Linked DNA regions of Homo sapiens: all the other regions are reported to be linked to region 6. Evidence: microRNA targets listed by miRTarBase, many of them from high-throughput screens and not tested one by one. Region 6 holds a microRNA gene; each other region holds the end of a gene's coding sequence. Distances are from middle to middle.

Region 1 (4,066 bases), not on the chromosome of region 6:
CTGGAAACCACTACTCTACTTCCTGTCATTATGTGTTTCCCTATCCTTGACATTCAATGTGAATGGAATCATGCAATGTGTGCTCTTTTGTAACTTCTTTCTCTGAGCGTAGTATTTTGAAAGTTCGTTGATGTTGCAGCCTGTGTCATTGTGTCATTCCTTCTCATAGCTGCAGAGTATGCCATGTAAGATGTACCATGTTTTGTTTATCTGTCCATCCATCGATGGACGCTTGGGTTAGGCCTACCTTTTAGCCCTATGAAGATGCCATTCTCCAGCAAGGCACCCTATTTCTCTATGCCAACTCTGTAATGATTATCTTTCCACCAGGAGGAACAATGTGGAAAGTCCACTTTGTGACGCCTGTGTTCCAGCCAGAGGGAGCCGGTGCCTGCTATGGAAGAAAGGTCTGCCCGTGCTTTGGGGAAAAAGTAGTCCACCACGATCCACCTTTGCTCTTTGACCTCTCAAGAGACCCTTCTGAGACCCACATCCTCACACCAGCCTCAGAGCCCGTGTTCTATCAGGTGATGGAACGAGTCCAGCAGGCGGTGTGGGAACACCAGCGGACACTCAGCCCAGTTCCTCTGCAGCTGGACAGGCTGGGCAACATCTGGAGACCGTGGCTGCAGCCCTGCTGTGGCCCGTTCCCCCTCTGCTGGTGCCTTAGGGAAGATGACCCACAATAAATGTCTGCAGTGAAAAGCTGGAGCCCCGATTCCTAAATTTTGTCACTCAAATTGAAACAAACCAGCTGGCCATGGTGGTTGTCATCCCAGCACTTTAGGAGGCCACCACAGGAGGATCACTCCCGTGATCAAAACCAACCTGGGCAACATGATGAAACTCTAGCTCTACAAAACAAAAATAAAAAAAAAATTAGCCTGCATGGTGGCACACGCCTGTAGTTCTAGCTTCTCAGGAGGCTAAGGCAGGAGGATCATTTGAGCACCGGAGTTGGAGGCTGTACTGAGCTATGATTGTACCACTGCACCCCAGCCTGGGCAACAGAGCAAGACCCTGTCTCAAAAAAGAAAGAAAACAAAAAAATGAAACAAACTTCAGTGTCATGTTAAGATATCTATTTGCATAAGGATGAATAGTTTCCCCCTGTGAAAAACAAAGGAAAAGGCAAGAGAAAGTAGAAATGAACAATAAACACTGGCCAGGCGCAGTGGCTCACGCCTGTAATCCCGGCACTTTGGGAGACAGAGGCAGGCAGATCACTTGAGGTCAGGAGTTCGAGACCAGCCCGACCAACATGGTGAAACCCTGTCTCTATCAAAAAAAAAAAAAAAAAAAAAAGCAGCAGCAGCAGCCAGGTGTGGTGGCACACGCCTATAATGCCAGCTACTCAGGAGGCTGAGGCAGAAGAATTGCTTGAAGCCGGGAGGCAGAGGTTGCAGTGAGCTGAGGTCGTACCACTGCACCCCAGCCTGGGTGACAGAGCAAGACTGTCTCATCAAAAATAAATAAATAAACAAACAAACATTAATAATGCACCGTTGAATGATCACTCAGACACCAAACTGGAGAGGCAAAGTATCTCCTGCAGTCGGGGAGGAGTCTGTCAATGGACCCCAGCTCAGTCTGGAAGAGGCTGCCCTGTAGCCCAAAACAGCACAAGTCCCAGCAAAGGTGTCTCTGTGACCTACAGGTTTGCACATGAACAGGAGATAGGCCCCAAAGATAAAAACTGGCACTGATGTGGCTTTGTCTGTGGTGCCCATTTATAGTGTTTGTTTATCGTTTACGGCCACAAGGATGAGCCGTGCTTCCCGTTGGAACTGTTTTCAAGTGGTTTTCCTTTGTCTCCAATGCCCCAGGTGATTTGGGCAAACTCTGGCTGTGGAAGCCGCGCTGTGCAGGAAGTGTTCGCCCCAGCTCTGAGCTGCAAGGTCATTGCATAATCAGGCTGCGCCTTAATTGTCTGGGCTGCTAGAATGAAAATACCATAAACTGGGTATCATCAAGAATATTTCTTTCTTGCAGTTCTAGAGGCTGGATGTCCAAGACCACGGCGTGACGGAAGCTGTGTCTGGGGAGAACCTGTTTCTCGGTTCACAGCTGCTGCCTTCTTCCCATGTCTTCACACGGTCATCCCTCTGTGCCTGTCTGTGTCCTATCTCTGATTCTTGTTTTTTGTTTTTTGTTTTTTTTTGAGATGGGGTCTTGCTCTGTTGCCCAGGCTGGAGTGCAATGGCGTGATCTCAGCTCACTGCAACCTCTGCCACAGGTTCAAGTGATTCCCCTGTCTCAGCCTCCCGAGTAGGTGGGACTACAGGCGTGCACCACCATGCCCGGCTAATTTTTGTATTATTTAGTAGAGGTGGGTTTTCACCATGTTGCCCAGGCTGGTCTAGAACTCCCGACCTCAAGTGATCCGCCCACCTTGGCCTCCCAAAGTGCTGAGATTACAGGCGTGAGTCACTGCACCCGGCCCTAATCTCCTCTTCTTATAAGGACCCCACTCCTATTGGAATAGGGCCCACTCTTGTGACCTCATTTTAAAGGATGAATAAAAACCTTATTCCTGTGAGTTTGAAGGCAACACAATTCAGTCCCCAGCACATTCTCCCCTGGGAGTAAGGAGGTCTTTCCAATAGCTCTTTCTGTCTCCAGATTCAAGCAACAGGTCCCTCCTCCCACTCTTCCAAGCCTAGGTATGTGACGAGCAATGCCCCACCTTGTCACCGCCTCAAGAACATGTCCTCAAATTATCCAATCCACATCAGCCTCCAAGAATTCAGGCTGTGCATACAGACCAAAAAGTCAAATCCATCTCCAGCCAATTCTCTTGGGTCAAGAAAGAAATAGTAGGCCAGGTGCGGTGACTCACATCTGTAGTCCCAGCACTTTAGGGCACTAAGATGGCTTGAGGCCAGGAGTTTCAGACCAGCTGGGGTGACATAGCGAGACCCTGCCTCCGCATAACATTTAAATAATTAGGTGTGGTGACACGTGCCTATAGTCCCACCTACTTGGGAGGCTGAGGCGGGAGGATCACTTGAGCCTTTGGCCTCCCAAAGTGTCCAAGGCTACACTGAGCTGTGATCGTGCCACTGGGCGACAGGGCGAGACCTCATCTCTAAAAAGAAAGGAAGGAAAAAATGGCAGGAAGGAAGGAAAGCAAAGAAGCAAAAAGAAAAAGGAAGAAAGGGAGGGAGGGATGGCAGGAAGAACCAGTTAACCCCTATGGCTTTCCCCATAGCCATGGCTTATGGAACAAGACCAGCACTTTGGGTCAGCTGTGCCCGATGTTCCCGGCCCACAGAGTCACCTTTAAGTTCTTCAGCATCCACTGGGGAGAGTCACCTCTGTCTCCACACTTGCCCACACTCTTGAGCTTGATGGCTTTGAAGCCAAAGTCCCCATGGAGGCTCCATGTGCTGAAAGTCATGTGAGACCCTCAGGGTCAGGGCTTACCCACCCTTTCCATCCCCACAACCTCCCGCAAATATGACTTCTGGAGCACCAGCTCCTACTGCCCCCAGGCCCCATTTCCAAATCCTGGGCACCCAAGACAGCTCAGTGTGTTTACATAATTTACCTAAGGGCACCCAAAGTTCTTTTCTCTCTAGTTCTCAGGAATCTCAACTCCCAGCAGCATAGGATTTCTTCCAAGGATCAAATCTCCGCGCCACCCCTGCTAAACCTCCTTGCAGAACTGCTTCTGGGCTGTCTCCTGCCCCCCTCCTTCCAGGCCTCGGCCTGGCCTTCTCCATCTGCATGACAGAGGCTCAGCAAGGAATCCCAGTTGGGAAGCCCTCAAAGATAAAAAAGTTCTTTTTTAAATTTTTTTAGAGACAGGGTCTTGCTCTGTCACCCAGTCTGGAGTGCAACGGTGCAATCAGCTCACTGCAACCTCAAATTCCTGCACTCAGATGACTCTCCCACCTCAGCCTCCCAAATAGCTGGGACTACAGGCACACCACCATGCCCGGCTAACTTAAAAAAATTTTTTTGTAGAGACAGGGTCTCTCTGTGTTTCGCAGGCTGTTCTCAAACTCCTGGTTTCAAGCAATCCTTCCCCCTCAGTCTCCCAAAGTGCTGGGATTACAGGTGT
Region 2 (4,066 bases), 39 Mb from region 6:
GATATGGGGTATTTGTGAAATGGTAGTCAGTTTTGTTGCCTAAGCATAGTGTAATGCAGGATAGGGAAGAGCCCAGGCTGAAGAGCAGGCAGACCAGACTGTGGGAAGCCTTGTGAGTCTTGTGAGGGCCTAGTGTGATGAGGTGGAAGGGTTTTAAACAGCGGAAGTTCAGAAGTATGACTCTGTCCATGCAGAACACCTAAGGGCTTACTTCCCATAAAGAAAGCTCTCCCCGTAGTCTTCCAGGTGCTCTCTTAAGTGTACTTTTCATCATTACTTACACTCCCTTTTGGTGTTTTATAGGTAAACGTCCAAAAAAAGGAATGGCAACAGCCAAACAACGTCTTGGGAAGATCCTTAAGTTGAACAGAAATGGCCATGCACGTTTCTTTGTGTGACAGAGCTGCTGTTGCAGCCATTCTTCCCTTTGGAGACCAGTCTAGGGGTGCAGGAGCCTGGAGCTTCCGCTGTCCCCCTGCCTGGAGCAGTTTGTGTGTATAGTAAGAACACTGCCCGAAGAACAGAATGAACCTGATGCTGCATTTTCACTGTGCCACACCCACTCAGCAATAACCATTTTGGACCTGGTGGGGGAGAGGAAGAAGGAGGGTAGAACCTTAAAAAGAGACCTTGAACTGGAAAGGGTCTCTTGTCAGGGCTTGAATTTTATTTTGTTGTTGGTAGTGTCTTGATGTATTTTCAGTGGTAGGGTAAAGAATTATCAATAATTTATTTAACAGATTTTTTTTTAAAGTTAACAGCTTTTAAATTCTTTTTTTAAAGCTATTTATTTGGAAGATTTCTGGAGAAATATCTCACTAATTTAGATGTAAGAATGTGAAGGTTTTTAAATTATTTTTGATAGTGTGTGTGTTACATGTGGGGAAGGGCCACAGTAACAGTAACTAGTCTGGACTCTTAAATTTGATATTCAGGTTAAAGTCTTAAACAGGGATTTGATGCATTAATTATTTTAAATTAAGATGTATATGAAAATCATTTTATTTTATATATTTCATGTGTTTTTTATAAGCTATTAGCTTCGCTTTTGCTAACATCCAAGGTGCATACTGTTATCCAGGTTGATTACCTTATATCCCACCTTCCCTCTGCACTCCCCATCATTTTGTGATGACCCAGTAAGACTCTTCTCTTTGCAGGGAAACACTTTCGTAGCCAATGTGTAAGAACTCCATGAAAGATCCCTCATTTCTCATTTCGTTTGACATTGTGATTTTCTTCTCAACATTAAAAAAAATAGGCTTTTGCATTTTCATTTCTGCTGATGATATCTGGGTCCCAAAGAGAGCAGCTTTAATATATTTTTCCTACTTGTGGGAAAAGTATTATAAGTTTGGTTAAATTGTCATGTTTATAGTTTTTCCAAGTACATTTGTAACTACAGCAGGCCTTCTTCGTACTGCTGCTGTTGGACAACAGGACTGGCACCTGCTGCAGAGGTTATACCTTATGATACTTTTATGCTCCATACCTGATTTGTTGGGAAATGTTATTTAGGATATTCAAATCTGCATCATAAGCCGTAATATAATAGGATTAATACTACATTAAGTTGTATAGAAGCAAGCATGTTGGAATAGATCTTTTGTGTGTATTTACTTTTTTTATTTCTTAATTTTCTAAAGAATTACTTAAGATATGGATTTGGAGTAAAATGGGTGCTTTTGGCAGTTTCTTCCATCTATCCTAACCTGACCAGTACATATTGAGGTTAAGTATCTGGTTAAACTTTAAGGTATTCATTTATCTCCTTTATGTATGATTTTTACTAAATGCCAGTTTTCATTTGCTTATAGTAGCTTCTATTTTCCCTTTTTTCCATCCATGGCATAAAAATAAGTGATTTCTGGGGGTGGGGCAGAAATGTTCCCAAGTCTGACAATAGAGCATTTTACAAATTCCTACAAAGAAAATATAGGCAAATAGATAAAATTTATTTTTATGGAGAAGAAATATGGCCATATTATGGATTTGTCTTTTTTTTACTCAGCAAGATAGCAGGACTTACCCTTCTCTATTAAGTATCACTTGAATTGCTAAGAAGAAAAAAGTCTGTACCATCATCTTTCATGGTTGCATTCAAATGTATATTTTCAAAGAGAAATACTTCTTGTGTCCCCATTCCAAAATGTCATGGGATAAATATGAAATAGTTTATGAAGTAGCCTTTCTGGTTCAGAGTGACTGGACCAAAGTCTGAATCTTATCTGGGTATCAGGAAAAAGAATTTTTATGGAAATCCTTAGTGTCTATAAACAACCCGTGTAAACCCTGTCTACACTATGCCAAAACCAGTGGAAAGATGGGTAGAGTCATCTTATCTCAGGATGTCAAAAATCTGGGTTTGACTGATTCCCCTACCTTCCCACACAGTATATTCTTGTGATTTTTGCTTTTCTGTAGATCCTGAGTCGGTGTTACAATAGTCATGTTTTTATTTTGGGTTAAGAAATACGAGGTGTAAGAGCTATAATTTCCTTTTCGTGTTATATCATGATCTGGGTTTTCTTTTTTCCTTTACGTTTTTCACAGCTCTTGAGTATTTTCTATTTTTTTCTTTAGTCACAAAAATTAAAATTAAACTTTATTTTTATGAATTAAAATGAAATTTAATTTATTTTTATGAATTAAAATTGTGGCCAGTATCCACTGTGTCCTTAGGCTGAGAAGTACTAATTTGGAGTAGCCCGTGTGTGGAATTCTAAAGTGAAGGTACTGTGGATTCATTTTTAGTAGTTTTAGCCCCTTAATAAGTGGCTAAGTTAGAAAACTTTCAGCGAGGTAATAGAACCACTTGAATAGAATCCATGTGTCTTTTTCTGAATTGGTGAAAATTCGGCCACTGATCCAGTGACTCCTGGTCAAACGTCTTATAACATTACTGGCCATAATGCATCCCTTTATCTCATGGAAATGGCTGAACTTTGTGGTAGCTGCTGCGAGTACCTGGGCTTAACAGTAATAGAGAACCTCATTTATACCATACAGACACAGCAACTTAGGAAGACAGCACTGATAGCATTTAGCTAGTTGTAACCAAATACAAATATGTAAAATTGAGAATTATGATTAACATATGCAACTTTAGTAATAGGAATAGATGATAATTTTCCTGTATTGTTTCAAATAAGTGACTGTTCAGCTGGGATCCATTGGATTATAATTTACAATGTCACATAATATTATGCTTTTCAATATTGATGAGTGATGTAAACAATATAAAGTTGGCAGTTTGTAGTAGTTCAGTATCCTAGAAATACATTGAACTTCATAAGTATCAGTTCATTTTTAAGCATACAGAATTGAAGATTCTGACTGAAATCATAAACTCAGAGGAAACAAGCCCATCTTTATCACTAATTACTTAGCTTGAATACTTTTCTATTTTTAAATAATCCTAATTATTGCCTTTTCAATTATAGTCTACTGTATTTATTTATATGGGATCAACAGGTATTTATCAAACATCTACTGTGTGCCCAGCACTACCTAGTACTGTTGGGGAACATCAATTTGCAGTTGTGGTCTCTGCCCTTGAAGGTATCTTCTCCAGGAAATTAGCAGTATTATTTTCACTTCTAAGCAAACATGAGCAAAAGAGGACCTGTTCATTAAAAAACATGCTGACTTTTTTAGTTTCAACTGAGATATGCCACTGTAGAAGTGAAAGTAATTTCACAATTAAAGAAATGCTTCAACTTGGTAATTAATATGGTCATACAGGGACTTGGTGTAGCATGCAAGGAAGCAGAAGACCTGGGCTTTTGTCGAAGTTCTGCCATTTAGGTATCAGCTGTGTAACCTTGAATAAGTCACTTAACTCTTTCTCTTAGTTTTCTCATTTGTAAATTTGGATTAAAGTGTTTATTATGATAATCAATTAAGAAAATCTCTTAACACTTCATACATACAGAGAACTTATCATTAAGTTAAAACTGGCAATTAATGCACCTTTATATATATTTTTAAATGAAAACTAATACTATTCATGATGTTTATTTTATATCAAATATATGCCCAGGGCATGCTACTTTAAAAATCCGAG
Region 3 (4,066 bases), not on the chromosome of region 6:
GGGGCTCACGGCCTAGGGAGGCGCGGAGGCATCTGGCAGAGGCGGGTCGGGCTGGGCCAGCTGGGGTAGAGCGGAGGAGCGGGTGCCGGCTGAAGCGGGGCGGTGGGCGCGGAGCGCGCTGGGGGCACCGACACCACCTCACCGGCAGCCGGGTGCTGAGGGCCGCGGTGTGGGTGCGCGGAGCAGTCAGGGCGCAGGTGGGCAGCGCGCACGGCCTGCCAGCCCGGGGCGCCAGAATCCTGCGCTGCGGGGCCGAGAGGGGCGCCGCGCCCGCCGCAGCCTGGAGCTTTCCGCGAACCTCGGGGCGCCCATGACGGCGGCGGCGACGGCTACCGTGCTCAAGGAGGGCGTGCTGGAGAAGCGCAGCGGCGGGCTGCTGCAGCTGTGGAAGCGGAAGCGCTGCGTCCTCACCGAACGCGGGCTGCAGCTCTTCGAGGCCAAGGGCACGGGCGGCCGGCCCAAGGAGCTCAGCTTCGCCCGCATCAAGGCCGTGGAGTGCGTGGAGAGCACCGGGCGCCACATCTACTTCACGCTGGTGACCGAAGGGGGCGGCGAGATCGACTTCCGCTGCCCCCTGGAAGATCCCGGCTGGAACGCCCAGATCACCCTAGGCCTGGTCAAGTTCAAGAACCAGCAGGCCATCCAGACAGTGCGGGCCCGGCAGAGCCTCGGGACCGGGACCCTCGTGTCCTAAACCACCGGGCGCACCATCTTTCCTTCATGCTACCCACCACCTCAGTGCTGAGGTCAAGGCAGGTAAGCCCCCGGGGGACTGGGCCCTCTTCTCTCCTTCCCTCCCTTCTCTTTCCCCTACAGAGAGAATGAGGACTAGCATTCTACTTCAGAGCCGGACATCTTAGGGGGGAGGTTCCTGGGGCCAACTGAGGGCATGGGAGGCTTGGGCCAGTGGCCAACCCAGCAGATCCGGACTTTCCCCTGAGGCACCAGGTTGGCCGGTCCAGAATGTGATCCAGGTGTGTGAGAGGAAGATGGAAGCCCTGGGAGGGGGATACCTGGGTGAGATGAGCCTTCTTTCAAGTTGGTTCAGCCCTGACTCAGGTGGAAGGAAGTAGAGGGAGGTTGGCCTGCACATTGCCCCAGGCTGTGGGCCTCTGCTTTCCACGCAGAGCAGGGCTCCTGGACTTCGGCTTTCTGGCAGCTGAGGACAACCGAGGGTGGGGACGCGGATCGTGGAGGCCGACCCTCTTTCCCTCTAGGTTGAATGCTTGTCATAAAGTTTGAGCATTGAATTGATGTAGAAAGACAGTATCTCCCAGATGGCGAAGGCACCATCAAGGGTTGCAAATAGAGCCAAGGAGTCCGGCTCCCAAGGTGGGGCCTCAGTGGAAGGTGGGGCCTCAGTGGGCCGCCTTGGCTGGACTGGGCCTGAGGGATCCAGCTCCTCCTCTACATATGTGTGTGTGTGTGTGTGTGTGTGTGTGTGTGTGTGTGTGTGTATGGTTTGTTGTTGTTGTTGTTGTTGTTTGAGACAGAGTCTCGCTGTGTCACCCAGGCTGGAGTACAGTCGTGTGATCTTGGCTCATTGCAACCTCTACCTCCTGGGCTCAAGCAAATCTCCTGCTTCAGCTTCCAGAACAGCTGGGATTACAGGTGCCTGCCACCACACCCTGCTAATTTTTGTATTTTTAGTAGAGATGGGGTTTCGCCATGTTGGCCAGGCTGGTCTTGAACTCCTGACCTCAGGTGATCTGCCTGCCTCGGCCTCCCCAAGTGCTGGGATTACAGGTGTGAGCCACTGCACCCAGCCTATATATATATTTTTGAGACAGGATCTCTACCTGTCGCCCAGACTGGTGCAGTAGCATAGTCATGGCTCACTGCAGCCTCAACAGCTTCAACCTCTTGGGCTCAAGCGATCCTCCCACCTCAGCCTCCAGGTAGCTGGGACTACAGGCACACGCCACCATGCCTGGCTAATTTTTTTTTTTGTAGATTTGGGGTTTCCCCACGTTGCCCATGCTGGTTTCGAACTCCTGAGCTCAAGCAATCTGCCCACCTTGGCCTCCCAAAGTGCTAAGATTACAGGTGTAAGCCACCACACCTGGTCCCCATTCTTGACAGTGGGTTTTGAGCCCTAGGGCTCACTGTTAGGAGAGCAAGGGAGCTGAAGGATAGGCAACTGCGCCAGAGGCTGGGCCACTGATGCCAAGGGGTGGGGGCCTAGCTGTCTACCTGCCCCTGAGTGCCAGTCAGGCCTGGCTGGGCCAGGGAAGGAGAAGCTGGAGGAGGGCATGGGGCACTGGGGCAGGGTGGGTGGGTGCAGCAGGATGGGGTCATGAGTTGTTATTTGTGATGTCTTAATCCTCTATGAGCAGTAGGGCAGGGAGTGGGGGGCGGATTTGTGGTCAGGAAGGCCCAGGGGAGGGGCCAGGAATAGAATCTGGAAGCCCTGGCTCTCAGCCCTGTGCCCTCTTCCCCAGATGCCACTCCCTTCTTGTGAGAAGTAGGAGTAGGGCTGAGAAAGGATTTAGCCTTCCTTCTAGCCTTAATTTTTCCAGTGGAAACCTAGATCCTTCTCTCCCCACTACCACCTCCTAGGCGACCTTACCCGCCTGCAGATGTCTTCAACAGTAGAGAGTCCTAGTGAGCCTGGGGCCCCATCTAGTGCCATACCCCACTTTGATGGTCCTGTTAATGCCCTCCCACATTGTAGTTAGGGTTTAGCTGAGAAGTGGGGTATAAGGCAGACCCCCTGTGCTGAGGATTGATCCACATTGATCCCTCAGGTCTTGGGGGCCTGGGAGGAAGCAGATTCCTTTACCACAGTACGTATGCAAAAAATGTTTTCCATGTTTATGGAAAAGGCTGGGAAGTGCTGGTGTAAAATGCCCAAGCTCATAATAGATACTCCTTTCTCCATTGTTGCCCCTGCTCTAACTGCTGTTCTTTCTTGCCAGCTTCGTTGTTCCCTCTGGCTTGTGGGGGCACGGCTGTGCTCCATGTGGCAAGGTGGAAGGCATGGACGTGTGGAGGAGGCGCTGGAGCTGAAGGAATGGACGAGCCCTGGGAGGAGGGCAGAAGGCTACGCAGGGCTGAGGATGAAGATGCAGCCCCTGGATGGTCCCAGACTCTCAGGACATGCCCAGCTCAGGGGCTTCGAGCCACAGGCCTGGCCTCATATGGCATGAGGGGGAGCTGGCATAGGAGCCCCCTCCCTGCTGTGGTCCTGCCCTCTGTCCTGCAGACTGCTCTTAGCCCCCTGGCTTTGTGCCAGGCCTGGAGGAGGGCAGTCCCCCATGGGGTGCCGAGCCAACGCCTCAGGAATCAGGAGGCCAGCCTGGTACCAAAAGGAGTACCCAGGGCCTGGTACCCAGGCCCACTCCAGAATGGCCTCTGGACTCACCTTGAGAAGGGGGAGCTGCTGGGCCTAAAGCCCACTCCTGGGGGTCTCCTGCTGCTTAGGTCCTTTTGGGACCCCCACCCATCCAGGCCCTTTCTTTGCACACTTCTTCCCCCACCTCTACGCATCTTCCCCCCACTGCGGTGTTCGGCCTGAAGGTGGTGGGGGTGAGGGGGGGTTTGGCCATTAGCATTTCATGTCTTTCCCCAAATGAAGATGCCCTGCAAAGGGCAGTAACCACACAGTTTGCTGAGTGAAATTCTTTGCCCACAAAGACCCAGGGCTTGGAGCATCTCTCTCTTTATCCTTAATCTCCCAATTTGCAACCCATTCTGAAGTCTCCAGCCTGGATAGGCAGAGACACTAAAACCCCAGTAGACAGGGCCTTGGTGGTCCTAGGAAGGAGGGCCCATAGATTCTGGACCGAGGGATGTCAAGCTGGTCAGTTCAGTCCCTATGAATGTCTCTTCTACAGGAGGCTACCCTGCCCCTGCTACCCTGGGAGAAGCCTCAGCTTTCTGGGCAGAGTTTGTCTCCCTGTCATTTATACTCTCAGGCTTTATACATTTACACAGTAAGTTCTCCCTCCTGGAGGGTTAAAAGGAATAATTTCAACAGGGTGAAGGCCTGGCACGGTGGCTCACAACTGTAATCCAAGGACTTTGGGAGGCTGAGGTGGGTGGATCACCTGAGGTCAGGAATTTG
Region 4 (4,066 bases), not on the chromosome of region 6:
TTTTTAAAAAAACAATATGATTTCGATGTATTTCATATTGATATTTATTTTTAAAGTATTAAAGAAATTGACAAAATAAATAACACCATATGATTTTTACATTTAAATAACAAACTAGCCTACAACAAGATAGATATTATCCCTGATTTACCTATGAGAAAACCGAGGGGTTTTTTTTTTTGCCCAAAGTGACCCACAGGTGGCACTGAGGATTTGAACTCAGTTTGTCTCACTCAGAGTTTAATGCTCTGTGTAACCATCCTTCTGTGCCTCCAGGGAATGATTTCAGGCATGTAGATCTGTGCTTTCAATGGAGTAGCCATTAGACAAACATAGCTGAGAACTTGAAATGTGACTAAATCCAGATGTGCTGTAAAATACACCCTGTATTTTGAAGACTTACTGCAAAAAAAAGTAAAACATCTCAAAAAATTTTAAATATATATCTCATATTTTGGATGTATTGTCATATATATATAAAATTAATTTCACCTGTTTTTAATATGGCTCTTACGATTTTCAACTGCTAGGATTTTTGCTTATCTATGTTTGTGTGCCATAAAATGCAATTCTGTCCTTATTGCATGAGTCCTCTTATATGAGGTATCTAAAATAGTCATGCTAAAAACATAAAATTACATGAGGCCCATGTTTCTATGTGTTGGCACTGATTTAGATCATTTCCACTTAGGTTCTGAGAAGTAAAATTTTGGAGTTTCCAAGGGAAATTTCCAGGAATTTAAAACATCAATCAGCTACACTTAATCCTTCTTGGTTTACTCTCTTCTGAACTTAATAAAGATAGACCTTAAATATCCTTTAGAGAAAGCATTTCATATTGAACAAATTGAGTGGTCATCTAGTAATCCTACAGATGGACTGGAGCATCTTATGATAAACTAATTATAGCAAAGACATAATGATTTGGTGATATTATTTTGTAGGCAGTTGCATAAATTCCTAGAGCCATTGCAGGTAGGGTGAAGATGGTGTATGTGTTGATCAGGAATCAAGAGTTGATCCAGAGATTTCATTTTGGTATGGGACATAAATCTCAGTATAGTCTCTGGGCTTCTTCTGATCATGATTTTCCAGCATAGTGTTAGATAACATAATAGATGTCAAATAATACAAATAAATGTCTTCAGATTGTAGTATAAAGACTCTAAATCCCACCACTGTGGTAGGCTGTGGGTTGGAAGGCTCCCTGGAAAAGCATATTTAAGATTCATAAAAGCAAAGGCAACTAGTTCCACTTTAGGCCTAAGAATGACGCTATGAATCTTGAACAGTCACAAAAATTACCTCTTCCTCAAGCATATGTTAATCAAAATTAAACCCTTAGTTATGAAAAACTCAGATTTTATTTTTTAATAAGTCTTTGTATAGACTTTCCAAGATTAGAGAAAATTCTGTTTGTAAACTGAGCTATTTAGCCGGCCTAAACTGGAAAGTAGAAGTAATCCTTTCAAAGCACGATTAGTGACTGCCTTCTGTGCACAGAGCAGTCTAGTGAATGCTCTGGAAAGTATAAAGGAAGCAGACAATACAAATTCTGCCCTCAGGGGTGGGATTTGTCTTATGTGTAGAGTTTGCTCTCTAGCATCAGTGAGTGAGTGTTGAGGTCTGAAAACAAGGGAATAGACACATCTTAGGTCCTTATTGGAAACAAGACTTCTTTGGCTCCATACTTTAATGGAAAGTTTACATGGAATCATGGGTACAATCCATTCTCAAGTGAGAAAGGAGCCATCAGCTCTGTGACTTTCAGGCTAAGCAACCTCATTCAGCAGTCTGCTTGGATAAATAAGGTCTTATTCTATCATCACTGCCTGTCAGCTGTATCTGTCATTTGGTGCCACTAACTTAGGCCAGATTAAACAGAAAGCAACCTCTGCCACAAAGCATCTCCCTAGGAAGAGATCACAACATAAACTAAAGCACTAACTCTCAAGATCCTGTTGTCACGATGATTCAGTTCATATATTATCTCTGACTTTTCTGAGATGATCTAATAAGTTCTAAGCAAAAATAAATATTTAATCTTTGATTAAATAACATTATTACTTAGTCTAGGGTGACTGGGTTACGTAGGATGGCTTGAAAGAGATAAGCCTTGGTGGACATCTTAAAAATTTAACTGAAGTAAAGAGCAACTGGTTTAGTTCCCTTCCCCTGGAGTGTTGTGGTGTTGAGAAGACAAAACTTTGGGAACAATCACAGGGGGGCTAGATAGACAATGCAAAATTGCTGCTGGAGAGACTGAGTGAGTAGATGTTAAATAACTAAGTGCGTGCTGGATGAATAATGTTCTGGATCCAAGAAAGACATACACAGGTAAAAAATGAATTCATGCCTTTTGTGTTGTTCAAAACTTGTACTTTATTTTTCTCAAATATTTTTACTTATGCTTTTTGTCATTATCCACAGTGTTTTTTTTTTAAAGCCTGAGCCACTTTGTGGTTTTAGCCTCAATATAATAATCATCCCCTTACTCTTAGACTAATTCCTTTTCCCCTGTCACTTTGCCTGTATACTCTGTAAAAATGAGGACCTTAGAAAATCAACATTTCCTGTGAACTTGAGAGACTATACAAGCAGTGCCCAAATCAGTAGGATTAGGCAGGTAAAACCAGTTGGATAGCAGATATATTATGATCTGTTGGACAAAGGTATAGTTGTGTGCATGTCTACAAGGTCATCGTGATTCGCCATTAGCTTAAGGATCATGTAGGTTGACCAGGGTGAGGTAGGACTATCCACAGGATTGTGTAAATTGTGGTAGGGGATGCAGTATACAATATTCATGAATTAAACACTTAGCTAACTGCTTTCCTGAAAATGGTCTGTGTTCTAAAAGACAAAGATCTAGGTTTTTTGCTGTTTTTTACTTTAACTTATGAAGATTCAAGTCACTAATATGTTACTTGCTCTGGTTTAAAATGAAAGCAACTGGCTATGGTAAGGTAGAGAAGACAGCTGAATTGTATCAGAATATTTAAGACTTTTAAATTAAGTTCTGAGTTACCTCACCTTATAAAAATATATGTCAATATACTAAATACCCAACAAAGATCCAGGATGTGGGATATTTAAAAATACATTTCTCTTGTATCAGCACCAAAAATACCAGTTTCTGTACAACCCGTGTCAAGTTTTTAAGTATACACACATTAAAATTATTTCTGATAAAAAAATCACAAACTCCACAGAAATAATTAAAGATATATGCAAATTACTTTCAAATACATTTTGACATCAAAGTCAGGCAATTCACTTGGAAGAATGTTATAATGAATGTCACTGAATTTTTGTAGTAAGATGTTTGACGTCAACTTTGATTATGGGAATACATCTCACACACAGGAGGCACTGGTATTTAGAAACTTAGGAAAATTACTAGAATTGTTAAGACTGAGGTGAAGAATTTGTACAGCCTTCCACAATTTCAAAGAGGTAGTGATAGATACTTGTCCTCCTGGCAATATCAAATGCAGTTTCTTCCAAGTTGTTTTTCAGCCCTGGTTTGACGTAACGGTTCATCAGGAGGAGTTCTAGGGTATCCTTGCTGTCTCTGTTCCCAGCAGCAAGATGCAAGGGGGTCAAGAGGCCTTTTGTTTGGGCATTGATATCTGCATCATGCTGCAGTAAGAAAGAAGCCACTCTGGTATTATTCCACTTACAAGCACTGTGCAGGGGCGTCCAGCCATCCACAGTCACTGCATGAACATCGGCCCCCTGTGCAATGAGCTCCTGAACAATATCTAAGTGTCCACTGTAGGCTGCTCGATGAAGAGGGGTATACTCATCTTCATCCCTAGTGTTCACGTGAGTGGCCTTTTCAGAAAGGAGTCTCCGCACTGTGGTAAGCTGAGAAGAAAAAAAAGAAATCTTTCAACTCAACTCAAACCAAAACAATAACTAAAACAAAATTGTCTTGTGGTGTTAGATTTAATTAAGTTGAATAAAAACTTACTTGTTAGTAGATGACTTTAAAATGAAAATAATTTAAGATCTCTTTTTGGGGAGGAGAGGACTACTGATTTAAGAATGAACAAGTTAGTGT
Region 5 (4,066 bases), not on the chromosome of region 6:
TTTAATGAAAGTTCTTACCTCATTTCCCACCAGAGGACCCACACTGGAGAAAAACCCTATGACTGTAATCACTGTGGGAAAAGCTTCAATCATAAAACAAACCTCAATAAACATGAGCGAATTCATACAGGAGAGAAACCTTATTCCTGTTCTCAGTGTGGAAAAAACTTCCGTCAGAATTCTCATCGGAGTCGTCATGAAGGAATCCATATAAGGGAGAAGATATTTAAGTGTCCAGAATGTGGGAAAACCTTCCCAAAGAATGAGGAGTTTGTGCTTCATCTGCAGAGTCATGAGGCTGAGAGACCATATGGTTGCAAAAAATGTGGGAGAAGATTTGGTCGGCTGTCAAACTGTACCCGGCATGAGAAAACCCACTCAGCCTGTAAGACCCGAAAGCAGAAGTAATACTGGGAACCCTTTCTGGGTCTGATGGTGCTGCCTCAACCTGAGAGCTTTCATAAGTAGTTCTGAATTCCCAAGCTGCCTAAAAAGGTATAAATGTGTAAAAATCTCATTATTGCCAAAATTGGATAAATGCCCATCTTAGCTAAAACCTCAAATTGCTAGAAAATTCACAGGGAAGAAAACATTTCAAGGGCTATACCTCAGCATCTAGGCTTTTTGGACTAAGGAGCTTTCCTTTTTGAAGTTATATGATAATGTACAGGTCACAGATCCCCTTTCCCAACACTTTGAAGATGAATCTGGAGTCTGCTTACTTGGAAGGCAAAGAGTGACTTGTGTCTATTGAAAGTATATCCGTTTTCCCCCCACATGGGGATTCATACTTGAGAAATAGTGCAAAGATGCTTATCTGGAACTGTGTTCTGGTGAAAGAACCAAATTACTGGCTTGTTAGCCAACAGCTTCTGATAGCAATTCATATAACCCTCTAAGAATACCTGTTTAAGTCTTGAGTGTTGAAAGGAATTGTTTACTTTGGAATATAGGAAAACAGTTGAATGTCAGACTCTCATTTGTATGTGATCTAAATTTGCAATCAATTTCAATAATATTTACAATTTGTGATAAAACTGACTTTTACAGATTCCTTTTCACAACATAATTTAGGTGTCTACTGTTCTTATTGTATTTTGTTCTGCTGTTGATCTCTCCAGCAGCCGTCTCATGCTTCTCCCTTGCTAAAAGAAGTTTGGATTACTCAGGCAGGGCCATCCAGCCCCACCACTAGAAAAGCTCTTCAGAATCTTGTCCCTCTGTTGAGCCCAGATCTCATGTGCTACGAAGGAAACCCCAAGACCCAGAGAGGAAGGGTCAACCTGGAGGCAGGAAAAAGTTGGCTTGGATCCATGTCTCATCAATAACCTTACCATATGCTTAGGTCCCCTCTATGCTGTCATCAGACCTTTGGCAATGGGGTGGTCACTACCTCACAAGGCAAAGTGTTGTATGATTAGAAATTACGTCTCCAGTGGTTAGCTCACATTGCCTCTCAAGAGACAGGTTTCCAGGTGTCTTCATTGTAGTGGGTATTAATTGTCTTCAGCCTCTTGATATCCATACCTTCCTGTCCTCTGCCTAGAAGCAAGGCCAGCGGTGCCTTTACGGACTGATCGTGTGGTGCGATTTAGGGATTCTTCAGTTTTGCTTGCTTTAGGTTTCCAAAAGTTATACATTGGTGTTTTGATTGGAATAAAGAAATCCTATAAGCTATTTGGGAAAAATTATAGTGTATGTTTCCCATCCAGAAACATGCCTTTCTATTTATTAGAGTATTATATTCCTGTGAAAATTTTTCTAATTTTCTTCACTTGTTTTACACAATTTTGTTATTGTAGTTTTTTCCATTATATTTTTATAGTTGATTATTGCTTTTACATGGGAAAGTTATTTTTAATTATATATTTGTATAGTCATCTCACTGTTGTTAATTTTCAATAGTTTGTTGGTTTAGTTCTGTTAACTTTTGGTAAAATGACACCATCTACAAAGAATAGTTTTTGTTTCTTGCCTTCTGCCTATTGGTCTTTTTTGTTTTGTTTGTTGTTATTAACATGTAATTCTGAGGTTTCTTGTTTTGGCACAAAGCATTCTGAAAGAAGGACATTCTATGATACAGTTCAGTCCTGAATCGTAATTTAAAAACAACAAATCCTCCACAACAGAGAAAGGCCACAGAAAAACTGTCTTTACCAACATTGTATTTCAGGCCAACAGGAAGTACCCTGTAAAGCCAGCAAAGCGAACAAAACAGGCTGCCCACAACGTTATTCGCTTATTTGAAAGTCTGACCAGTGCACTAGGACTGGGATCCTGAACTGTGTTTCCAGAGTCGGCAGGCTGTTACCATGTGCAGTGGACCTGCCTGTGCACCCAGAAAAGTAGCTGCCAGGAAGTGAGTGGTGAGAGAGAGTCTCCACTCACTCTTTGGTACCCCTGCCCAGAGTCGGGTATTTTATCAGTCCTCATGCAGCCATGGCACAGTACCCGAGACAGTTAATTTTTTCTTTGAGACTGGCTCTGTTGATAAGGCTGGAGTGGGGTGATCTTGGCTCGCTGCAACCTCCCGCCTGCTAGGCTCAAGCGATCTTCCTGCCTCAACCTCTTGAGTAGCTTTTCGTTTAAGTGTAGGTGGGTGAAGCCACCACAACCCACACCATCTCATGTGTAGGGGACCTGCCCATGCATCCAGAAAAGTAGCTGCCAGGAAGTGAGTGGTGAGAGAGAGTCTCCACTCTCTCACTCTTTGGCAGCCCTGCCCAGAGTCGGGGGTTACATCAGTTCTCATGAAGCCATGGCACGGTACCTGAGACACTTTTTTCTTTAGTTGAGACTGGCTCTGTTGCTAAGGCTGGAGTGGGACGATCTTGGCTCACTGCAACCTCCACCTCCTAGGCTCAAACAATCCTCCTGCCTCAGCTTCCTGAGTAGCTTTTTGTTTTTTTAAGTGTAGGTGGGTGAAGCCACCACAACCCACACCATCTCCTGGACTGGGGAGGTGCCCACGGTCAGGGTTGCCGTCAATCAGCACCCAGTGTCCCAGAGGGCAGGACATGGGCCGCAGGGTTTCCTTCCGCAATAGTGAGGCTGGGTGGGAATGAGAGGAGCGCCCCGACCAGGACCAGGGGCCGCCCCCAAACACGAGAGCCCCTGGGAAGTTGTTGGATGAGTAAGTTCTGTTACCTAAGGAGCCTGATCACCAGTTAAGTTGAAAAAGTAAACAACAGTGAACAGTTTCCCAATATAGCGGTAGAGCGAGAGTTGGAAAATGTAAGAGACCAAAGATCCAATTCCAGTAGTAACTACAGAAAATAAGCCAGGCGCAGTGGCTCACACCTGTAATCCCAGCACTTTGGGAAGCCGAATCAGGAGGATGGCTTGAGGCCAGGAGTTCAAGACCAGCCTGGGCAACATAGTGAGACCCTGTCTACGAAAAAAAAAAAAAAAAAGATTTGGTTGAGTGCAGTGGCTCAACGCCTATAATCCCAGCACTTTGGGAGGCCAAGGCAGGTGGATCACCTGAGGTCAGGAGTTCAAGGCCAGCCTGGCCAACATGGTGAAACCCCATCTCTACTAATAATACAAAAAGTAGCCAGTTGCGGTGGCAGGCATCTGTAGTCCCAGCTACTCAGGAGGCTGAGGAAGGAGGATTGCTTGAACCCGGGAAGTGGAGTTGCAGTGAGCCGAGATTATGCCACTGCACTCTAGCCTGGGCTATAGAGTGAGATACCATTTCAAAAAACAATTATTTTTAAAATTTAAAAAACATTATCAAGACGGCATGGTGGCATGTGCGTGTAGTCCCAGCTACTTTGGAAGCTGAGGTGGGAGGATTCCTTGAATCCAGGAGTTAGAGACCAGCCTGAGCAACTTACTGAGACCACATCTTTTTTTTTTTTTTTTTTTTTTTTTTTTTTAAGAAACAGGGTCTCACTCTGTTGCGCAGACTGGAGTACAGAGCTGTGATCATAGCTCACTACAGCCCTGAACTCGTAGACTCAAGAGATCCTTCCGCCTAACTCTCCCAAGTATCTGGGACTACAGGGACATGCCACCTCACCCAGCTAATTTTTTTATTTTTATTTTTCTAGAAACGCGGTCT
Region 6 (4,066 bases):
TCGGGAGTTCGAGACCAGCCTGGCCAACAAACTGGGGTTTTAGTGAAACCCCGTCTGTACTAAAAATACAAAAATTAACCAAGCGTGGCAGCGTGTGCCTGTAATCCAGTTATTCAGGAGGCTGAGGCAGGAGAATCACTTGAACCCGGGAGGCAGAGGTTGCAGTGAGCCAAGATGGCACCACTGCACCCCAGCCTGGGCAAACAAGAGCAAAACTCTGTCTCAAAAAACAAAAAAGCCCCCTAAAACACCACCAGCCACCCCACCCAGTCGGTGTCCCATTGTCTGTAGGGCCTGAAATCCCAGTTCCCCAGGGCTCACCTGGGGCCCGTGCTCGCCTCCTCTTCCTCTTCCTGCAGGGCCAGAGACCCCAGCAGCTTCCTCTTTGGCCCCTGGCCCTGGCTCTCTCTGGCTCCTATAGCCAGGCCCCCAGACTTCACCTCGGCCTGGGAGAGGAAAGTGGGGGCCCGGGAGGGGCCCAGAGGCCTGAGAGGCTCCCCGCCTGGGTGGGCCGCAGCCCCTCACTGGCTGTGCCACCTTCACTTGCACGGGGAAGGCTGGGCCAGCCGGGGTGCTGGCGGTAGTGTAAGAGGCTGGAGTGGGGCCCCCATAGGGAGACGCTGGGAGCGGCGAGGCTGGATTTGGCTTCAGGGAGCCCGTGCGGTAGGCAGGAGGTGGCGGGGGCTCATATGCCTGAGGAGAAACGCAGGCCAGAAGTCGTAAGCAAGGACCCCACTCCAAGACCCACATTTGTGGAAATGACCCTGGCTGTGGGGAAGCACAGGCTTTTTGCATTTGACAAGGTCCCGTCCTCAAGTGGCTGACATGTTGGTACTTGCAGCCACGCTTCCTCCATGCTGGGGTGCACATTACACACATGGGGGATCGATCAGGCTGGGTCTGAGAGTCCAGAGAAGGGGGCAGGGTGCTGACGGGGAGGAGGGGCAGAGTCACCTGTCGGTCTGGTCGCCGTGACGCATGACCCCGACCCCCATTCAGCTCGGCCAGCGTGCTGCTCAGCAAGTCTATCTCGGCGTCCAGGCTTCCAGGGCGAAGGCCCCCCCTGTCTGCAGGGAGCCCCTGAGGATGGAGCCAGGGCAGGAAGAATGCAAATCACCATAGGCCTTCTCCTGTCCTGGGTCCCTCAGACTCGGTTCTGGGGGATCCCACATGTCCCACCCCACGATCCCGGGTCTCACCTGCGTGTGCTGGAGTACTCCATGGGACCCCACCCACGCCGGCCCCCGATCCTCCGGTCCCCCTGGGGCCTGGTAACACTGCTCAGATGGAAGGGGGCAAAAATTGACCCTGGGGTGGGGCTGGAGTGCTGGGTTGAGGGAAGAGAAATCAAAGGTGGGGTGGCGGAGGACAGGAGGGGTGTATATTTGAGGAGCCACCCTCTCCGCCTCTCGTTACCTCCTCCCCCAAATCTAGGGTCCCAAGAGAGCGCAGGCGGCTGTTCCCCCCGCCTCGGCTTGGGGAAGGGGCAGGAGGAAGCAGCCAGGGCGGGAGGCTGGAGCGGTAGGACAGAGGTGAGCGCCACAGCTGGGTGGCTCTTCTGTCTCACAAGGGCTGCCTTACCTGCTCCGTGGGCCGGTGGTGGCCCCGGGGTGCCGCGGGGGATCGCCCTCCCCTGAGGGGCTCTGGCGGGCTCCGGCTGCTTCGGGGGCAGCCAGGTGGGCCCCGACATGGCCTGGAAAGGGGGACTCCAGACAGCGGTCTTGAAGCCCCGAGCCTCTGGCCTTCACCCCCTCTTCCGTCCCGCACCTCGTTTGGGACTCCAGAAAAGAAAACTTTTTCTGGCTTTTTTTTTTCCTCTTCCTCCCTAATTTTGGGGACGACCACGCCTCCGATGACGTCACCACATTCCTGGGGGAGGGTCACGTGGCCCCCTAGGCCCTAAACTGCCATTTCTCCCTGAGTCAGCCCCCTCCTGCCGAGAGGGGAGGGCTCTCCGGGGGATCCCGAGTCACTGGGGGTTGCGGGCAGCTGGGGATGGGAGGTGCGGGCCCGAGCCAGCCTCCAAGTCCACGGATGCGTCCGGGCCCCGCACCCCAGCCCTGCACGTGGCAGCCTCGCGGCGGGAGGCTGAAGGCTCCGATCTCCACCCCTCTGCAGAGCTCTCCATTCCCACCCCCTCCCTCTCAGCTACCCACCAGCACTGCTCAGCCAGCCTGTAGTGTTTTGGTCTTTTATTCATGGTCAGCAGAGTTAGAAAAATAAAACAGAACGAAAACATCACCACCCCAGTGGGCCGGTGAGTCTGGCCAAAATGGGGAAACTGAGGTAGCCCAGAGTCACAGAGGAGGCCTGGCCCCTAGCATCAAGGCACCAGTGAAGGGAGGCTGCGGACTCCCTCCCCTGCACGGTGGGGACAGCCACCCAGAGTTAGTGTGCTGGGGTCCCTCTGCCAAAGGAGGTGGGCGTGATGCCCAAGCCCAGGATCCCCTTCAAACCTCCCCTGGGCTCCACGTCCCAAGGGCAGGGCCACGGGCCACAGTGGCCTCCTCTTCCTCCTCCTCCAAGGATCAGGATAGGCCGCCTGCCTGGGCCCTCTCTACCTAGCCCTGGAGGCAGGGGCATCACAGATCAGTGCAGGTGACTGGAGTGACCCCATGAACCAGCAGCGTGGGGCCCAGGTCTCGGGTTAGAGTCTCCAGTAGCGCCAGGTAGCGGGGGTATCGGGCGGGATCGGCTGGCGGCCGAGGCAAGTACAGGAAGGTGAGGGCTGTGATGGGGCCCTCAGCATCCCCACCCTCCGGCCCACCCGGCCCTCCTCCTGTGCCGCGCCCCTGCTGGGCCCGAACCAGGGCGTTGGCGCTGCGTGCCAGGGCCTCTGCCTCTGCGTCTCCCCGCCCACTGTTCACAAAGTCCCCTTCCTCCTCCGCCTCGGGTTCCCCAGCCCCGGCCCCCTCGCCCCACACCACCTCCTGCACCTCAGCCCGGATCCTCAGTTGGCTCAGCAGTGCCCGCAGCCGCCCCTCGGCCGCCCCAGGCGCCTCCCGAGGCCCCAGGCACAGGAAGATCCGGAGCCGGGCGCTATGCCAAGCGGGCACCATGCCCAAGATGGTTGCCATCTGCAGCAGGAAGAGGCCGCAGACATCCACATAGCCGGGCCCACCCCGGGGCCGCAGCAGGTTGAGGGGCCACACGTCCACATGGTGCAGCTGAGAGGTGCCCCCAGACCCCCGGCTCAGCCGCTCAGGGGGCAAGGCCCCGCTGGCCCGGGCCAGCACCACATTCTTGTTCATCTTGAGGGCGTCGGCCACCGTGGCCACATAGTCCTGGGGATTGAGGGCCCGGGGGCTCCCAGGAGCCCGGGGAGGAGGGAACAGGGTGCTCAGAGCTGGGGAACTGCCCTCCCTGGTGCTGTCTGCAGGCTCAGAGAAAGCCGGGTCCGTCAGGAAATGGTCCTGCGGTGGAGCGTCATCGTAGAAACCTAGGACCAACGTGTTGGGCTTCATGCCACCTGGGGGCAGAGCGGGGAAGGCAGGAACAGACAGGAGTCAGGCTCACAGGCTAAGTTTACACCACGCTCCCACACACTGACAGCAAGGTGCGTCAGCCATAGGTATGACATTCCCACTGTGTACGGGCTCTTACGGCAACATTCTGCATATTTGCATAAAGACTTTTCATTTTTCCTAAACACTTTCACATGCATTTATTTTATTATCTCAGTGACTAATCTCCTCCACTTAAACAGGCAAAGTTCGCCTTAGGATTCTTGCCACTAATGAGCACTCCAATTCTATGGAGAGGAGGATGCTGTCCACTCCCGGCTTCTAGCGGGGCATCTGTTTCACGGCAGGGGATGCGAGTTTGACTCTGTTGTGCAAACCAGACACCCTGATCAGCCAAGCTCATGACCTGAATCCCCAGGGTAATAGCGTCCCAGACTCTGCAATGGGAAGATGAAAAAATGGACCAGGCAGGGCACCGTGGCTCACACCTGTAATCGCAGCATCTTGGGAAGCTGAGGCACGTTGATCACCTGAGATCAGGAGTTTGAGACCAGCCTGGCCAATACGGTGAAATGCTATCTCTACTAAAAATACAAAAATTA
Region 7 (4,066 bases), not on the chromosome of region 6:
TGAGCAGAAGTCCTGTTTAGACAGTAAAGCTTTTTCTATCTAGTTAAAAGATACATTAGAAATAATGATGCCTTATGATGTCCTATCTTTGAAAAATATGATTTGGGCATAAAAAGTACATATCAGTCTTGCAGTAGTCCAAGTTTTGAAAATCTGAGGATTAAAAATTATTTTCTAAATTAACTTGGTCCAGCAGATTGACATTATAAAATACAGGTTACCATAAGTTTTGCTGGAGAATATTATCTGGAATAGTTTCATGAAACCCAGACAATACTACTTTCCATTAATTCTTTTAATATATTATTCTAGCCTATGGCCAAACATGCAGTTTGGTTGCATTTTATGAGCATTTCACAATAAAGATCATATTTCTAAATACAGTTCACTGTCAAAGAAAAGGTATTAAAATTCTTCTTTTAAAAAAAATCATAGATGGACCTAGCCATCTCTCATACAGCTTGTGCATAGTTTTGTGTGTTTTTTTTTAAACATTCATCCATCCACACCCTTTAAATACCATGCTCCACAAGCAGGCAAACATTAAATATATTCCAGATGGGAATCAACAGCTGTTCAGTTCCTCTCTCTATAAACCCGTGGTTGGTGTGGCCCTCTGTCATGAATGTTGAATTTTGCAGAGAGAAGGAGGAAGGAAAGATGCTAGATAAAGAGCACCCCACCCTAAAAAGAAATTTTTTCTTTTTAAAAAGTCTCCTTTATTCGAAAAGAGGCAGACTGGTTCCTGGGGTTACTGCCCTTCTAGGGGAAAGTGCCACATTTAATAAAACTTATTTTTTTTTTTTTAGGGATGGGGTCTTGCTATGTTGCCCAGACTGGCCTTGAACTCCTGGGCTCAAGGGATCCTCTCGCTCACTTTTTTTAAAGTGAAAGTTTGCTTTCACTTTAAAAATGTTAGTGGAGAGTCACCAGGAATTTTGCATAAATGAGACATAGAGGAGCAAAGTGTTCATGAAAGACTCGGTCACATGCTGACTGACATGAGTCCTGCATTTCCAACGTGGTAGGAAGAAGGGAAGGAAGACTGTTGCCACTAGAGGTTTGCAAAGCCCCTTCCTAACATTCTTAAGGAAGAAGACTGAAAGGTGGCATTCAAACACAACAAAAGGGATATTTTTTTTTTTTTGAGACAGAGTCTCGCTCTGTCGCCCAGGCTGGAGTGCAGTGGCACGATCTCGGCTCAGCGCAAGCTCCGCCTCCCAGGTTCACGCCATTCTCCTGCCTCAGCCTCCCGAGCAGCTGGGACCACAGGCGCCCACCACCACGCCCGACTAATTTTTTGTGTTTTTAGTAGAGACAGGGTTTCACTGTGGTCTCGATCTCCTGACCTCGTGATCCGCCCGCCTCGGCCTCCCAAAGTGCTGGGATTACAGGCATGAGCCACCAAGCCCGGCCTTTTTTTTTTTTTTTTTTTTTTTTTAATGAGACAGAGTCTCCCTCTGTTGCCTAGGCTGGAGTGCAGTAGCGCAATCTAGGCTCCCCCCGCAGGTTAAAGTAATTCTCCTGCCTCAGCCTCCTGAGTAGCTGGGATTACAGGTGTGTGCCAACACGCCCAGCTAATTTTTGTATTTTTAGTAGAGACAGGGTTTCACCATGTTGGTCAGGCTGGTCTCGATCTCCTGACCTTGTGATCTCCCCGCCTCAGCCTCCCAAAGTGCTGGGATTAGAGGCGTGGGCTACCACACCCGGCCAAGAGGGATTTTCTTTAAGCAAGCTTTCACAGTAGTGGAGTTAAATGATGTGGGCTAAAAGGTGGAGGCAAAAAAGCCAAAAAGAAATGGGAAAGGACATGGCAGGATGGGAAATTCCAACATGAGCTAATATGAGTGTGAGAACGATCATTTGCAGGAGAGTGAAAATCTCCCGCAAAGGTAGATAAAGAGCCACTTTGTGTGTCCAGTGAGAAAGTGGACTGTGAGTAACCTATAAGCTGCTCATTGGAAACAAGAGGGCCCTCAACAACGTTACAAAGGAGCAGATCATCCTTCTGGTCTCTTGCTCCTGGTGCTTCTGAATCCACAGCAAACCTTGGCAGGAACATGCTTCCCTTTGCCACCCAGAGGTGCTCTGAGAAAACACTCTAACTCACTAGGAGGTGGAGATATAGACCTTTTTCTGAACTGCTTCTCACATGCAGGGGAAAATAAATCAAAGAGAAGGCCTAAAAGAACTGGAACTTGGACTAAATTAAAGAAAATTAAGAAAAAATGAGAATAGGAAGGAAGTTTTTGCAAACAAGGAAAACCACTATTTTTTTTTCTCCCCATCCAAGATAACTTTCAATAGTGTATTACTCTCAATATGTTGGTGGCAAGCTTGGTTGGCTCCAGACAAAAACTTGTAATACCCAAGGAGAAAAAATTTACCTACCGCTGCTGATGGCATTAGTGAGGTCAGCCCAAGCCAGCAACCTCCTTGCAGACTTCAGCCCCACTGTATATTGGTTCAGCCTGGATCATGGCACCTAATGGTACCTTCTGGGCACCTGCTCAGAACCAGGAATTCTGCACCTCTCTCTAAGCTCAGCCAGTTTATTGAACAAATAATCTATATTTATAGAGCAGACTCCACTGTTGATTAAACAGCTTTAAAATATTATAGCAAACGAGAGCCCATTGTTTTAATGTGAATCCAGGCATTTCACTTTGTTTTTTTGAAAAGAGAGTTTAATCTTCTTCCCTAAATAGGATACTTACAGATAAGCATGGCATGAAACCTTAAGCACCGTATTTGAATTTTAGAATGTGGCAATCTATATAACAGTAAATATATGACTGTGATTCTTTTCTATCTTCTCTAAACGCCATTCAATTCTCTCCTCTCTTTAATTGAATTTGGGAAACAAGGTTTGACAAAGGGATACAATATTTAAAGTCTACTAGAAGCACAAGGAAAAAATTCTCCACCAAAGCACATCGACACGTTTGTCCTCCCCACCCCTTTTTAACTGAAGAGCCCCAATTTTGATACTAGAGGAGTTATGGTCTATTGTGAACACACATCTTAGAAGTAGCCTCACATTTTCTTAGAGCTCACTTTGTCATTTTCCCCCTTTTGATACTCTGCCAAATTTAACTTCAAGAATTTATGATTTAAGACACTGTGAGAGTACTTAAATCCAAAGTTCCTGGAAAAATAGGATGTAAAAGAAAAGTTACAATGCAAACCACCCCAATGGACTCTTAGTGAGAAGCAGGTAAATCAATCATTCACTCCCTCATGTCTGCAGGCCTAGGAGGGGACTCTGAAAATAGCATCGTATTTGGAAGAAGAGGAGTGGAGAGACGTCAGGAGAAGAGAAGAGAAAAATGTATGTTTTCTAGGTCTCCAGTGGTCTTTCTTCTCTTTAGATGGTTTAACTGCAGGTGAGTTGATCTTTCTCTTCCTTTGGCGTGACGGTGTTGGGATGTGCTATGGGTAGAAGTCTCTGGGGGCTCTCAAGTCTCTTGTCTCAGTTCTTCTTGGATGGTCATCTCCAGAGCCCAGGTCCATGGCTTCTGGGTAGCTGGGAAATTCCTGAGGTAAAGGGAACTCCTCTGCTGAAGAGTGAGTCCGGTGCCCGAACACCTTTTCCTGCAGCTCAGTGATGTCATTGCGGATGTCAGCCAGCATAAGTAGCAGGAAGTCGAAAGAACCAGGGGGTCCCTGTGTACATGGGAGGAATCAAAGCTAGAATACGACAGACAGCAATGGCCTCCGGGGCTCCATGACTTGACCTGCTGCTTGCTGGCAACTACTTTCTCAATAACTCTGTGCCCCAAATGGAGCCAATGTGAGGACTGCTACAGGAGCCTGGGGGTCCTCCATATTGTTTTCTAATTCTGTCACTTCTCAGCTGAGCTTTGGTGATGTATTCACCTTTCCTCCCTCCTAACGCTTTATCAAATCCAGTAGAGGAAAGGATATAAGAATAACTCTCCTAGGTTACTTTCCAAAGCAGTCTGGAAGATGCTTATGAAGGCAGCAGAGCAGTGGTTAAGAGACTGGGGTTCTGTTGGATTTGAATCTCATCTCTGCCGCTTACTAGCTGTGTCATCTTAATTTC

The links. The annotated mature microRNA hsa-miR-6875-3p reads AUUCUUCCUGCCCUGGCUCCAU and lies in region 6 at 1,087-1,108, opposite strand. An mRNA with a match to its seed (bases 2 to 7 or 8) in the 3' UTR can be bound and repressed. Matches are read on the target gene's strand: a 7mer-m8 pairs with bases 2 to 8, a 7mer-A1 pairs with bases 2 to 7 and ends in A, and an 8mer does both.
Region 1: miRTarBase lists ARSL as a target of hsa-miR-6875-3p. The part of its 3' UTR that is shown has no 7-base or 8-base seed match.
Region 2: the mRNA of KDM7A is a reported target of hsa-miR-6875-3p. Seed matches in the 3' UTR shown: 7mer-m8 at 598-604, 7mer-A1 at 1,968-1,974 and 7mer-A1 at 2,062-2,068.
Region 3: miRTarBase lists PHLDA3 as a target of hsa-miR-6875-3p. The part of its 3' UTR that is shown has no 7-base or 8-base seed match.
Region 4: miRTarBase lists ANKRD49 as a target of hsa-miR-6875-3p. The part of its 3' UTR that is shown has no 7-base or 8-base seed match.
Region 5: the mRNA of ZNF200 is a reported target of hsa-miR-6875-3p. Seed matches in the 3' UTR shown: 8mer at 582-589.
Region 7: miRTarBase lists CCBE1 as a target of hsa-miR-6875-3p. Seed matches in the 3' UTR shown: 7mer-A1 at 3,358-3,364 and 7mer-m8 at 2,694-2,700.

What each region holds. Positions count from the first base shown.
Region 1 is chrX:2,931,455-2,935,520 of GRCh38, reverse strand. ARSL (arylsulfatase L) reads left to right here. Exons shown (of 11, transcript NM_000047.3): 11 at 331-1,000. The coding sequence ends at 689. Among named protein-coding and RNA genes, the nearest start is that of ARSD, 4.1 kb to the right of the region's middle.
Region 2 is chr7:140,087,426-140,091,491 of GRCh38, reverse strand. It overlaps KDM7A (lysine demethylase 7A), which reads left to right. Exons shown (of 20, transcript NM_030647.2): 20 at 304-4,066. The coding sequence ends at 398. Among named protein-coding and RNA genes, the nearest start is that of PARP12, 27 kb to the right of the region's middle.
Region 3 is chr1:201,465,031-201,469,096 of GRCh38, reverse strand. PHLDA3 (pleckstrin homology like domain family A member 3) reads left to right here. Exons shown (of 2, transcript NM_012396.5): 1 at 1-756; 2 at 2,919-4,066. The coding sequence starts at 311. The coding sequence ends at 694. Among named protein-coding and RNA genes, the nearest start is that of PHLDA3, 2.1 kb to the left of the region's middle. RefSeq lists enhancers at 1-9, 1-238, 460-599, 670-729 and a silencer at 80-389.
Region 4 is chr11:94,497,875-94,501,940 of GRCh38, reverse strand. It overlaps ANKRD49 (ankyrin repeat domain 49), which reads right to left. Exons shown (of 3, transcript NM_017704.3): 3 at 2,363-3,870. The coding sequence ends at 3,409. It also overlaps a transcript of MRE11 not described here. Among named protein-coding and RNA genes, the nearest start is that of ANKRD49, 5.9 kb to the right of the region's middle.
Region 5 is chr16:3,220,234-3,224,299 of GRCh38, reverse strand. ZNF200 (zinc finger protein 200) reads left to right here. Exons shown (of 5, transcript NM_198088.3): 5 at 1-1,975. The coding sequence ends at 408. Among named protein-coding and RNA genes, the nearest start is that of ZNF200, 13 kb to the left of the region's middle.
Region 6 is chr7:100,865,122-100,869,187 of GRCh38, reverse strand. MIR6875 (microRNA 6875) reads right to left here and starts at 1,152; the gene lies at 1,081-1,152. SLC12A9 (solute carrier family 12 member 9) reads right to left here. Exons shown (of 14, transcript NM_020246.4): 14 at 2,178-3,469. The coding sequence ends at 2,583. TRIP6 (thyroid hormone receptor interactor 6) reads right to left here and starts at 1,801. Exons shown (of 9, transcript NM_003302.3): 1 at 1,582-1,801; 2 at 1,200-1,327; 3 at 955-1,080; 4 at 322-693. The coding sequence starts at 1,690. RefSeq lists an enhancer at 1,014-1,113 and silencers at 1,554-1,703, 2,064-2,153.
Region 7 is chr18:59,432,476-59,436,541 of GRCh38, forward strand. It overlaps CCBE1 (collagen and calcium binding EGF domains 1), which reads right to left. Exons shown (of 11, transcript NM_133459.4): 11 at 1-3,666. The coding sequence ends at 3,433. Among named protein-coding and RNA genes, the nearest start is that of LMAN1, 75 kb to the left of the region's middle.